Regions from separate parts of the Homo sapiens genome. Here region 1 is linked to region 2. Evidence: fine-mapped expression QTL. A gene starts in region 2. The other region holds a variant in brackets. All regions are shown on one strand. Distances are from middle to middle. Region 1 has its middle 7.8 kb from the start of FTH1. Region 2 holds the start of BEST1 (bestrophin 1).

The links. PIP is the estimated chance that this variant, and not a neighbour inherited with it, causes the effect.
Region 1: its variant is the best candidate, but not a certain one, in a credible set for the expression of BEST1 in transverse colon (GTEx, PIP 0.65).

The regions. Positions count from the first base shown.
Region 1 is chr11:61,972,795-61,978,166 of GRCh38, forward strand. No RefSeq gene overlaps it. Among named protein-coding and RNA genes, the nearest start is that of FTH1, 7.8 kb to the left of the region's middle. RefSeq lists an enhancer at 1-168. The variant C/T (reference allele first, on the strand shown) is at 2,700.
Region 2 is chr11:61,947,412-61,952,772 of GRCh38, forward strand. BEST1 (bestrophin 1) reads left to right here and starts at 2,940. Exons shown (of 11, transcript NM_004183.4): 1 at 2,940-3,016; 2 at 4,360-4,547. The coding sequence starts at 4,396.

The DNA.
Region 1 (5,372 bases), 25 kb after region 2:
ATGTCTGGGATTTCCCCTGAAGTGAAGTGAAGTAAAGCAGGAAATTCGAGTTTTGAAATTCAGACCAAAGGAAAAACAATACTAAATCAGTATTTGGGTACATTTCTGGATGATGCAATCATACTCACAGAGCTTGTCCTGAAATCATTTCTTGAAAACCCTTGAGGCCATGTAAACTCAGAGTCTAGGTACTTGGAATCCCCCGCTTCCAGAAGGTTAACGAGAGCCACAGCCTGCGATGTTTGAGGACAACTGTGAATGGAAGGCAAGGCCCATTTTTGAATGCTAACTCAGGCCTCACTGCACTCCAGACTTCTGCCAGAGACCCTATCACATGCCCTAGCTATGTGTTTACCTCCTGGCTGGACTTTGAAGTTTTAAGCTGTGTCCCCAACCCTGGCACAGCCCGGGGGTCCCTCCAGTTGTAGCAGTTTGCAGCTCTGTACCTCTTCTCTGGAATGGTCATGCCCAGCAGAGCATCGGCTCTCTACCTTTGGACTAGCGGCTCCTGGAGATCAAGGGTCTTGCCTTTAACAGTCCCCAGCTGTATCCTTCCCAGTGAGCCCCTGGGATATGCACACAGTGAAGAGGCCACGTGGCCTCTCTGAACTTTGATTCCTGTATTATTTATGGTATCTGAAGCCAGCCCTCTCCCATGCTACCTTGAGTACCCGCTCTGGGCGCCCTCTTTACCACAGTTCCCGTTGCACCCCGTCAGCTGGGACCCAGCCACATGGCATCCCCACATCACCCCATCCAGGCTCAGCTGTGCTCACCCTGGCCAAATCAGGGGAGGCCCAGCTCAGCGCAGGTGACAGGTGGGAGCCATGGCTAGCAGCCTTGGGAGGAGGATGAAAAAACAGAAAAATGTCTTGCAAGTCTGGGCAGGGACCTCAGCAGCCAGAGGCCTTGGCAGCCAGGGGCTGGGAGTGCCTCCTCATGGAAATGGGAACTATGCCTCAGGAGTTTTCACTGTGTAGACACTCACTATGGTGGAGGGGAACGATGGCTGCACAGCACAGTCCCTTGAGCACCGGGTCGGAGGGAGTAGGGATCAAGAGGATCTGAGAGATCAGCAGCCAGGGACTAACCCAGCTGGGAGGCAGCAGAATGAAGCAGCCGGAAAGAGCGGCTAGGGCTTTCCTGCCCCCAGAGAAGGGGCACAATCCAGGAGAGCTAGTGAGTCTTGCTGGGCCAGCAGATGGGGCCTCGGTCAGCAGAGGGAAATCCTGAGTGTCCTATGAGAGGGTCAGGACCCCAAAGATCTCACCCTCAGCATGGATGAGGCCTCCCTCCAGCCTGTGGCTGTTCCCACTGTCCCAGGCTCCCTATTTCCTGCCTCTACCACCTCCTGCAGTCCCACTCTCTCTAATTTGTCTCTTTTCTGTCTGTCCCAGCATTATGAAATACAAAGATAAGCACTTTGTGATTACAACTCCTTAAAGGAGGCCGGTACAGTGGCTCACACCTGTAATCCCAGTACTTTGGAGGCCGAGGTGGGTTGATTGCTTGAGCCCAGGAGTTTGAGACCAGCCTGGGTGACATAGCAAGTCCCTCTCTCTCCAAAAAAAACACAAAAATTAGCCGGGTATGATGGCACAGGCCTGTAGTCCCAGCTATTCAGGAGGCTGAGGGAGGAGGATTGCTTGAGCCCAGGAGTTTGAGACCAGCCTGGGTGACATAGCAAGTCCCTCTCTCTCCAAAAAAAAAACACAAAAATTAGCCAGGTATGATGGCACAGGCCTGTAGTCCCAGCTATTCAGGAGGCTGAGGGAGGAGGATTGCTTGAGCCCAGGAGTTTGAGACCAGCCTGGGTGACATAGCAAGTCCCTCTCTCTCCAAAAAAAAACACAAAAATTAGCCGGGTATGATGGCACAGGCCTGTAGTCCCAGCTATTCAGGAGGCTGAGGGAAGAGGATTGCTTGAGCCCAGGAGTTTGAGACCAGCCTGGGTGACATAGCAAGTCCCTCTCTCTCCAAAAAAAAAAAAACACAAAAATTAGCCGGGTATGATGGCACAGGCCTGTAGTCCCAGCTATTCAGGAGGCTGAGGGAGGAGGATTGCTTGAGCCCAGGAATTCGAAGCTGCAGTCAGCAATGATTGTGCCACTGCACTCCAGCCTGGGCGACAGAGCCAAACCTTGTCTCTAAAAAAAATAAAAAATAAAATAAAACTCCTTAAGTGCTCTCCACTGCCCTTGGGATATAATTGTAATTCCAGGGTATGGCCCAGCCACTCACCCCCAGGCTTCTCTCTAGCCCTCCAGGGTTCCCCTCACACCTTGGGACTTGGCACAGCTGTTTGATCTGCCCAGACGGCCTGCCCCTCACTCTTCTGCATGAAAAAGTACCCAGCCTTCAACACCGGGCTCAAATATGCTCCCAAAGCTCCCTGCACTGCCCCGCAGAGCTGAGAATTTCCATTCTTTGTGCCCTCCAGCACTCCGAGCGCGTGGTCTCCACTGCCACGCAGTATTACAGTGACCTGCTCCATACCCACCTCCCCCACAGCAAGGGAACCTCTGCCCTGTTTATCTTGGCCATGCCTTTGCCTTTCCCACCTCAGCACCTGGCAAAGTACTCACAGTTTCACAGGCTCCCAGACTACCGACAAATATGGGCTGGATTTAACTTGGACTTAGCTCTTAGCCCAACTCTTATTCATCTTTCCTGTTGCTGAGCGTTAGGCTGCCCCACCA[C/T]TACCCCGTGCCTCATAGGTTTTTTGTTTTTTTGACAGTCTTGCTGTGTTACCTAGGCTGGAGTGCAGTGGGGCCATCTCAGCTCACTACAACCTCTGCCTCCCGGGTTCAAGTGATTCTCCTACCTCAGCCTCCTGAGTAACTGGGATTACAGGCATGCACCACCATGCCCAGCGAATTGTTGTATTTTTAGTAGAACAGGGTTTTGCCATTTTGCTCATGCTGGTCTCGAAGTGCGGCCTCAAACAATCCGCCCACCTCAGCCTCCCAAAATGCTGGCGTGAGCCACTGGGCCCGGCCAGGTTTGGTTTTTCCATCTTTACTTAATTAAGACTACCAGCTGTTTCTACCTCCCGTATGGAAGATGCTGGGAATTGGTGAGTCTTTCTGGGGTTTCAGGATTATTCCTAGGCAGAGACCTGAAGACACTGTGAGGCAGTCGGGGCTGGGACCAGCGCGGCCATGGGGATGGAGATGTCACAGTCACAGGCTCTGTGGCTCTGAGGACCAATTCCTGTGGCTTGCTTTTGTGGCCACAGAGTGTTTCCTCAACTGGAGGAATCTGTGGGCTGTCACTAGGGACCAATGTGGGAGGAAAGCAAGAAGGGTTGGTATAAAAATCAGCTTGCTACTACAAAACAATGTCCTATCCTTCCTGGCGGTGGGCCAGTGCATTGTTGGAGTTTTCATTCCATAAAATAACAGATTTTTACATAAAGTAAGTTGACACCTTCGGGGCTGACACTGACAGCACCTCTGAGTAGGTAGGGCAGGTAGCCCGTGCTGGCAGCAGAGGTTTCCTTTATCCAGTGAGGAAACTGGAAGTCAGAGAGGTTAAGAGACGGCCTTGCCTAAGATTGCGCAGCTGGTAAGAGACAGGGCTCTGACCAGAATCTGGACTCTGATTGTGGTGCAATTTTCTGAATCTGGTGCCCTGACACAGCCATGACGGCAATTCTTAAACTCAGCACATACATTACCCTTAATCTCGAAGCATGCAGGAAGAAGAGCTCCAAGATTCCACTTGCTGAGGCTTCTGAAATATCCCTGCAGGTGGAGAGCACTTCCTGCAGCCCTGAATCCTGAAGGCGAGCCAGCACCCAACTTCGGTGGGCTTCAAGCCACTGGAGTTGGCCGAGGGTGCTTTCAAAGTAGTTGCTGTGATTCTACCAGCAGCAAAGCTGTCACGGGTGATCTTTGAAATTAATGGGCTGATTTGATTAGTAACTGAAGTCTGTTTGCTTGGTGGGAGTTTTGTGGTTCTTTGGATGGCACTCTTGGGGATCTCGTGGCAGGGCTTAGCGAATTGGACTTGGTCTTGAGTTATCTGGACTTGGTGCTAATGGCTGGCAGGCCCAGGAGATGCCTGGGCAGCCCGTAGACTGGGGCTATCCAGTGGCATTCTGAGCAGGGCAGTGGGTCTCGGCCCACATGGGAGAGCTAAGGGTATTTCTGGAGCATGTAATTCCCAGGGACCATGGCTGGCTCCTCAGACCCCCATTACTCCCACTGTGCTTGGCTGGTCCTCCCAGGGGCTGGGGGCCTCTGCTCAGCCACAAGACACACCATATTAGGGAGTGGTGGGAGATGCTTCCCTGAGGGTCTCATGGTACCTCCTTCGTATGTAGGATCTGAGAACCATATAAACTTGCCTAAAAGAGTCTCGGGGCCTCTGGAGCTGAAGCTGTTCACATGCCGGGAAGCATAGGATGACCCACCTCCAAACTGGGGCAACACCAGCTCCTCCCCTGGGGCCTTAGCCCACCCTTGGTTTTCTGTGCGGAGGGCTCACCCACCTTTCTGACAAAGCTTCTGATGGCTCAGAAGCCAGTTGGCCTGAGTCAGAGCCAGGAGAGCCTTCCCATGGGAAGGGGCTTTACATGCTATTACCTTTCTCATCTGTTTCCAGCTGCACGGATGATATGCTAACCCCCTGTCAAACATCCCTGCCTTTTGTAATTCTTTGAAAGCATTAGTTGGAACCAAGTGGCTCTCGTTTTTCCCCACTATTTACTCACCTATCCAGCTGCCCTTTCAATATCGTGGGTGTGTATGTGGGTGGACAGGGGTGTGTATGTGTAGTGGCAGGAATCCGGATGTTTTGCTTTTTGCTTTTTTCTGGAATTGATTTCTCCAGATCCATACCTACTCCCCAATATCCACCTGTCTTCTGGACACTAGATCCAGATTTTCCTCTGGGGAACTATTTCCCTCCCTCCAACCTCTGTGATGTGCTATAATTGGAACTGCCTCCATCCCTAGATTCAGGGATAGACATGTTTTGTTTTACTTGCAACAGATTTTTCAGTCAACTTACCTTTTATATCAGGGGTCCCCAACCCCTGGTCCATAGACTGGTACCGAAGGTGCATAGACTGTGCACCTCCAGGCTGCATGGCAGGAGGTGAGCAGTGGGTGAATGAACATTACCTCCAAGCTCTGCCTGCTGGTTATCCCAGCTCTGCCTCCTGTCAGATCAGCAGTGGCATTAGCTTCTCATAGGAGTGTGAACCCTACGGTGAACTGCACGTGACAGGGATCTAGGTTGTGCGCTCCTTATGAGAACCTAACTAATGCCTGATGATCTGAGGTGGAACAGTTTCATCCTGAAACCATCTCCCTCCCCCACCCCTTGTCCATGGAAAAAATTGTCTTCCACAAAACCGGTGCCTG
Region 2 (5,361 bases):
CTTTGCTGTGTGCCTGAGCCGTGCCTGGCTAACTGGGGACATTTTCATAGCTGAGACCCAGTAGGAGAGACCATGACTTGTGCCAGGGTGTGCCTGTCTCAGCTCTGGGGCAGGGCCAGGAGCAGCTGCTCATGGGATGTCTCTGGGGACATGCTGGGGCCTCTGGGAGGGGAAGGGAGACTGGCCATGCACTGTCTATGGTCCTGGTGGTACTCCTGGGATATTGCCAAGGAGCCTGCGGTTCAGGGAACAGGGAGGAGGGACTCTAGTGTCTCCAACTCCCTCTCATGGCTCTATGGCTGCTGGTCGGGGTCAGGGAGATGAAGCAGTGCCAGCTCCGTGGTCTGCACTGATCCTGACCAGTGAACCAGGCTTCCCCAGCCAGAGCCAGCTAGTCAAGCACGCTCTCTAGTGGCCACCACAGGGAAGGCAAGAACTTGTCTCCACAAAGGCAGGATTTTCATTTATTCCTTCAGAGAGTACAGAATGAGCATCAATGTTCCAGGCATGGTGCCAGGCATGTGTGTTAACTTTAGTTAAAACATACTTATTGGCCGAGTGTGGCGGCTCACTCCTGTAATCCCACCACTTTGGGAGGCCTAGGTGGGAGGACTGCTTGAACTTAGAGCTCAATACCAGCCTGGGTAATGTAGTGAGACCCTATCTCTATAAAAAAAAAAAAAATAGCTGGGTGTGGTGGTGTGCGTCTGTAGTCCCAGCGACTTGGGAGGCTGAGATGGGAGGATTGCTTGAGCCTGGGAAGTGGAGGTTGCAATGAGCCAAAATCACACCCATTGCACTCCAGCCTGGGTGACCTTGTCTCAAAAATATAGTTATATATTTACTTATATATTTATATGTATAAATATATGTGTACATACAAATATATTTGTAATATTATAGACATATTAATACATATTTACATATGTTAATATATAAATATATATAATATATATTTATCATCTTCTAAATGGAAAGCTCTTGAGTTTCAGGATGTGTTGGTTGGGAAGGGAATACAGGATAGGGAAATAATCCATTAAGCAATGACTCAGCACAGGCCATAAAATCAGAATCACCTGGAGAACTTGAACAATCCCAACACCTGGGGTCCATCCAGACCAATCAAATCAGAATTCGTAGGGGTCAGGCACAGGCACCAGTGGTTTGGAGAGTTGACGGACACATGTCCCATCCATCATTCTCATTCGGCTGCCAAGGTAGGCATCGTTGTCCCATTTTGCATATGAGGAGACTGAGGCTGAAGTGAACCTGCTTCTTTCCCCATATCAGTTGAGGACAGCGATGGGGCAGCGGGGAGGCAGTAAATACTCCTACAAGGCTGCCTCTAAAGAGAGTCTTATAATAACAACAGCTTTATTGTTTGCCATGATTAGAAAAGTATTCAAGGTCATTGCGAAATAGTGTTTTTTTTTCTAGGCAGATAATTATATAAAGGCAAAAATGGTGTGTGGGGGTGGGGGACAAGGGGAGGGAGAGCATTAGGACAAATACCTAATGCACGCAAGGCTTAAAACCTAGATGATGGGTTGACAGGTGCAGCAAACCACCATGGCACACGTATACCTATGTAACAAACCTGCACATCATGTATACCTATGTAACAAACCTGTACATTCTGCACACGTATCCCAGAACTTAAAGTGAAAAAAAAAGTGGTGTGTAGAAAAATCACCTGCAATCTCAGCATAGTTAACGCTTAGTACATTTCAGAGAGAGAGGGTGACAGGAAAGGGAGGATGAGAGTGGGTTTAAGACACAAGGTCATATTATAAAATCAGGGCTTCTGGAAGTTTAGTCCCAAAACCACACATCTCATAATCCCCTGCAGTGCTTGATTAAAATGCAACATCCCTAAGGCCACAGACTCAGACTCTGGAGAAAGATCCAGAAAACTGCCCGTTTAATAAACATTTGGGCGATTCTTACGGCCTCTAAAGACCAAGAACCACTGCTGCCTAGAGCTCTGCTCTCTTCATTGAACAATACAAGAGGAGTGTGTAGGTAGACACCCACCACTTCCAACAGCTTAGGAGAGCCCTTGAGTATGGATTGATGTATTAAAATTTATTGAATCACATGCTGAGATTTTCACCAGCTGCCCGTGGGGATCTGGGCATTTATTCCCATATTGCACTGGCTGGCTGGAAGCCAGCAGCATAAACTCCAGGGCTGTTCTGTCAACCCCCACCAGACTCACCCCCCTCCACCAGCCCCGGCAGGCTTCTCCTTCCATCTCTCTGAAGCAACTTACTGATGGGCCCTGCCAGCCAATCACAGCCAGAATAACGTATGATGTCACCAGCAGCCAATCAGAGCTCCTCGTCAGCATATGCAGAATTCTGTCATTTTACTAGGGTGATGAAATTCCCAAGCAACACCATCCTTTTCAGATAAGGGCACTGAGGCTGAGAGAGGAGCTGAAACCTACCCGGGGTCACCACACACAGGTGGCAAGGCTGGGACCAGAAACCAGGACTGTTGACTGCAGCCCGGTATTCATTCTTTCCATAGCCCACAGGGCTGTCAAAGACCCCAGGGCCTAGTCAGAGGCTCCTCCTTCCTGGAGAGTTCCTGGCACAGAAGTTGAAGCTCAGCACAGCCCCCTAACCCCCAACTCTCTCTGCAAGGCCTCAGGGGTCAGAACACTGGTGGAGCAGATCCTTTAGCCTCTGGATTTTAGGGCCATGGTAGAGGGGGTGTTGCCCTAAATTCCAGCCCTGGTCTCAGCCCAACACCCTCCAAGAAGAAATTAGAGGGGCCATGGCCAGGCTGTGCTAGCCGTTGCTTCTGAGCAGATTACAAGAAGGGACTAAGACAAGGACTCCTTTGTGGAGGTCCTGGCTTAGGGAGTCAAGTGACGGCGGCTCAGCACTCACGTGGGCAGTGCCAGCCTCTAAGAGTGGGCAGGGGCACTGGCCACAGAGTCCCAGGGAGTCCCACCAGCCTAGTCGCCAGACCTTCTGTGGGATCATCGGACCCACCTGGAACCCCACCTGTGAGTACAAGGTGCCCCAGGTGGACTGGGCTGGGGCTTTGAGGCCTTCAGGGTTGGATGGCCATCTTGCGTATTTGTGTGGGATATGCACACACAGGCAGCACATGCGCAGGTGTGTGGGCACCTGTGTGTCTGTGCAAATGCCCTGAGGTGGGAATGAGCTTGGTGTGCATCAGGCACAGCCAGCCAGTGTGGCTGCAGCAAAACACACAGGGAAAGAATGGAGGGGGCATCAATCACTGCTTCAGTAAATTTTTATTGAGCGCCTTCTACGAGAACACAAGAGGAGCTTCCATTCTGAGGAGGAAACAGGCAGGAAACAGGCAGATATCCTGTATAATTTCAAGTAGTGATAAGTGCTCTCTAGAAATATCAAGCAAGGTGAGGAGACACAGAGCACCGGTGGCAGTGGGGCTCTATTTCCAGGTTGGATGGTTGGGAACATCCTTTCTAAAGGGAACCTGGAGTGGGAAGGAACCATGCAGGTATCTCAGGAAGAGCTTCCTCCAGGCAGGAAGATCAGCAGGTGGAAAGGCCCTGGAGCCACCATTCAGTAAACATCATTTGAGCATCTCTACCAGCTAGGTTCCATTATGGGAATGGGAATATGGTGGTGGACAGGGCTGCCTGGTCCCTTCCATACTTCTCACACTAGGGTGGTTGAGAGAGCTTGGGAGCTAACGAACAAGATGGGCTGAGAACACTGCCTAGCCCAGAGGACCTGAGCTTAGTGTGTAGACATTGCTGCTGTTACTGCCTTTGTCATTGTATTATTTATTTATTTATTTATTTATTTTTAGACAGAGTTTTGCTCTTCTTACCCAGGCTGGAGTGCAATGGCGTGATCTCAGCTCACTGCAACCTCCACCTCCTGGGTTCAAGCGATTCTCCTGCCTCAGCCTCCTGAGTAGCTGGGATTACAGGCACCCGCACCACGCCTGGATAATTTTTTTGTATTTTTAGTAGAGACAGGGTTTCACCATGTTGGCCAGGCTGGTCTCGAACTCCTGACCTTAGGTGATCCACCTGCCTCGACTTCCCAAAGTGCTGGGATTATAGGCATGAGCCACTGCGCCCAGTGATTATAGAAAGTTAAAGGCACATGGCAATGCACACGCCTATCTACGTCTTCCCTGCCAAAGCAAAGGGCAGCCTCTGGGCTCACTTTCTTGCGTTTCTACTTCCAAAAGGCAGTCAGAACTGGCAGGGCCTTGGAGACCACTTCATCCACCTCCTAGGGTCCCTATGGGAGAGTTGAGGTCCAGAGCAGGGAAGGGTCCTGACAGGCTCTGACCAGGGCCTCTGATCCCTACAAACCCCCAATCGGTGTCCCTCTCTACCAGGACCCAAGCCCACCTGCTGCAGCCCACTGCCTGGCCATGACCATCACTTACACAAGCCAAGTGGCTAATGCCCGCTTAGGCTCCTTCTCCCGCCTGCTGCTGTGCTGGCGGGGCAGCATCTACAAGCTGCTATATGGCGAGTTCTTAATCTTCCTGCTCTGCTACTACATCATCCGCTTTATTTATAGGTAAAGCTGGCAGGGCTGGGCCGGGGGGCCTGGGAAGGATGTGGCTGGGGCTGGGAGCTCCTGGGGGCCTCCCAGCCAGCTCAGGGGCCAGTGTACCAGTTCACTACAAGACTAAGCTGAGCTCCTGACCAGGTCCTGGGCACTGGAGCTGAGGCTGGGGCTGGGGGCTGGGGAGAGAAAAGAAGTCAGACTGAGAGGCTGCTCAAGCCAGGCCAGCAGGGTTTTAGCCACCCTTCCTCCAACCCCAGGAGGACCCCTGGAGCCCAGGCTTTGTCTGGCCCCACTCAACTGGCCTGTTTTACTGAATCCCACACAGACTCATAGGCCCACATAGTACATTAAAAAAGAGAGAGAGAGAGAGAGAGAGAGAGAGAGATGGAGTCTCACTGTGTTGTCCAGGCTGGTCTCGAACTCCTAGGCTCAAGCAATCCCCCTGCCTTAGCCTCCCAAGGGGCTGGGATTACAGGTGTGAGCTACTGCACTTGACCAACCACATGGTACTTTTTTTTTTTTTTTTTTTTTTTTGAGACAGGGTTTCACTCCATCACCCAGGCTGGAGTGCAGTGGGGGCAATCTTGGCTCACTGTAACCTCTGCCTCCCAGGTGCAAGCGATTCTCCTGCCTTAGCCTCCTGAGTAGCTGGAATTATAGGCACACACCACCACGCCTGGCTAATTTTTTTTTTTTTCTGTATTTTTAGTAGAGACAGGGTTTCATCATGTTGGCCAGGCTGGTCTTGAACCCCTGACCTCAAGTGATCCACCCACCTCGGCCTCCCAAAGTGCTGGGATTACAGGTGTCAGCCACCATGCAC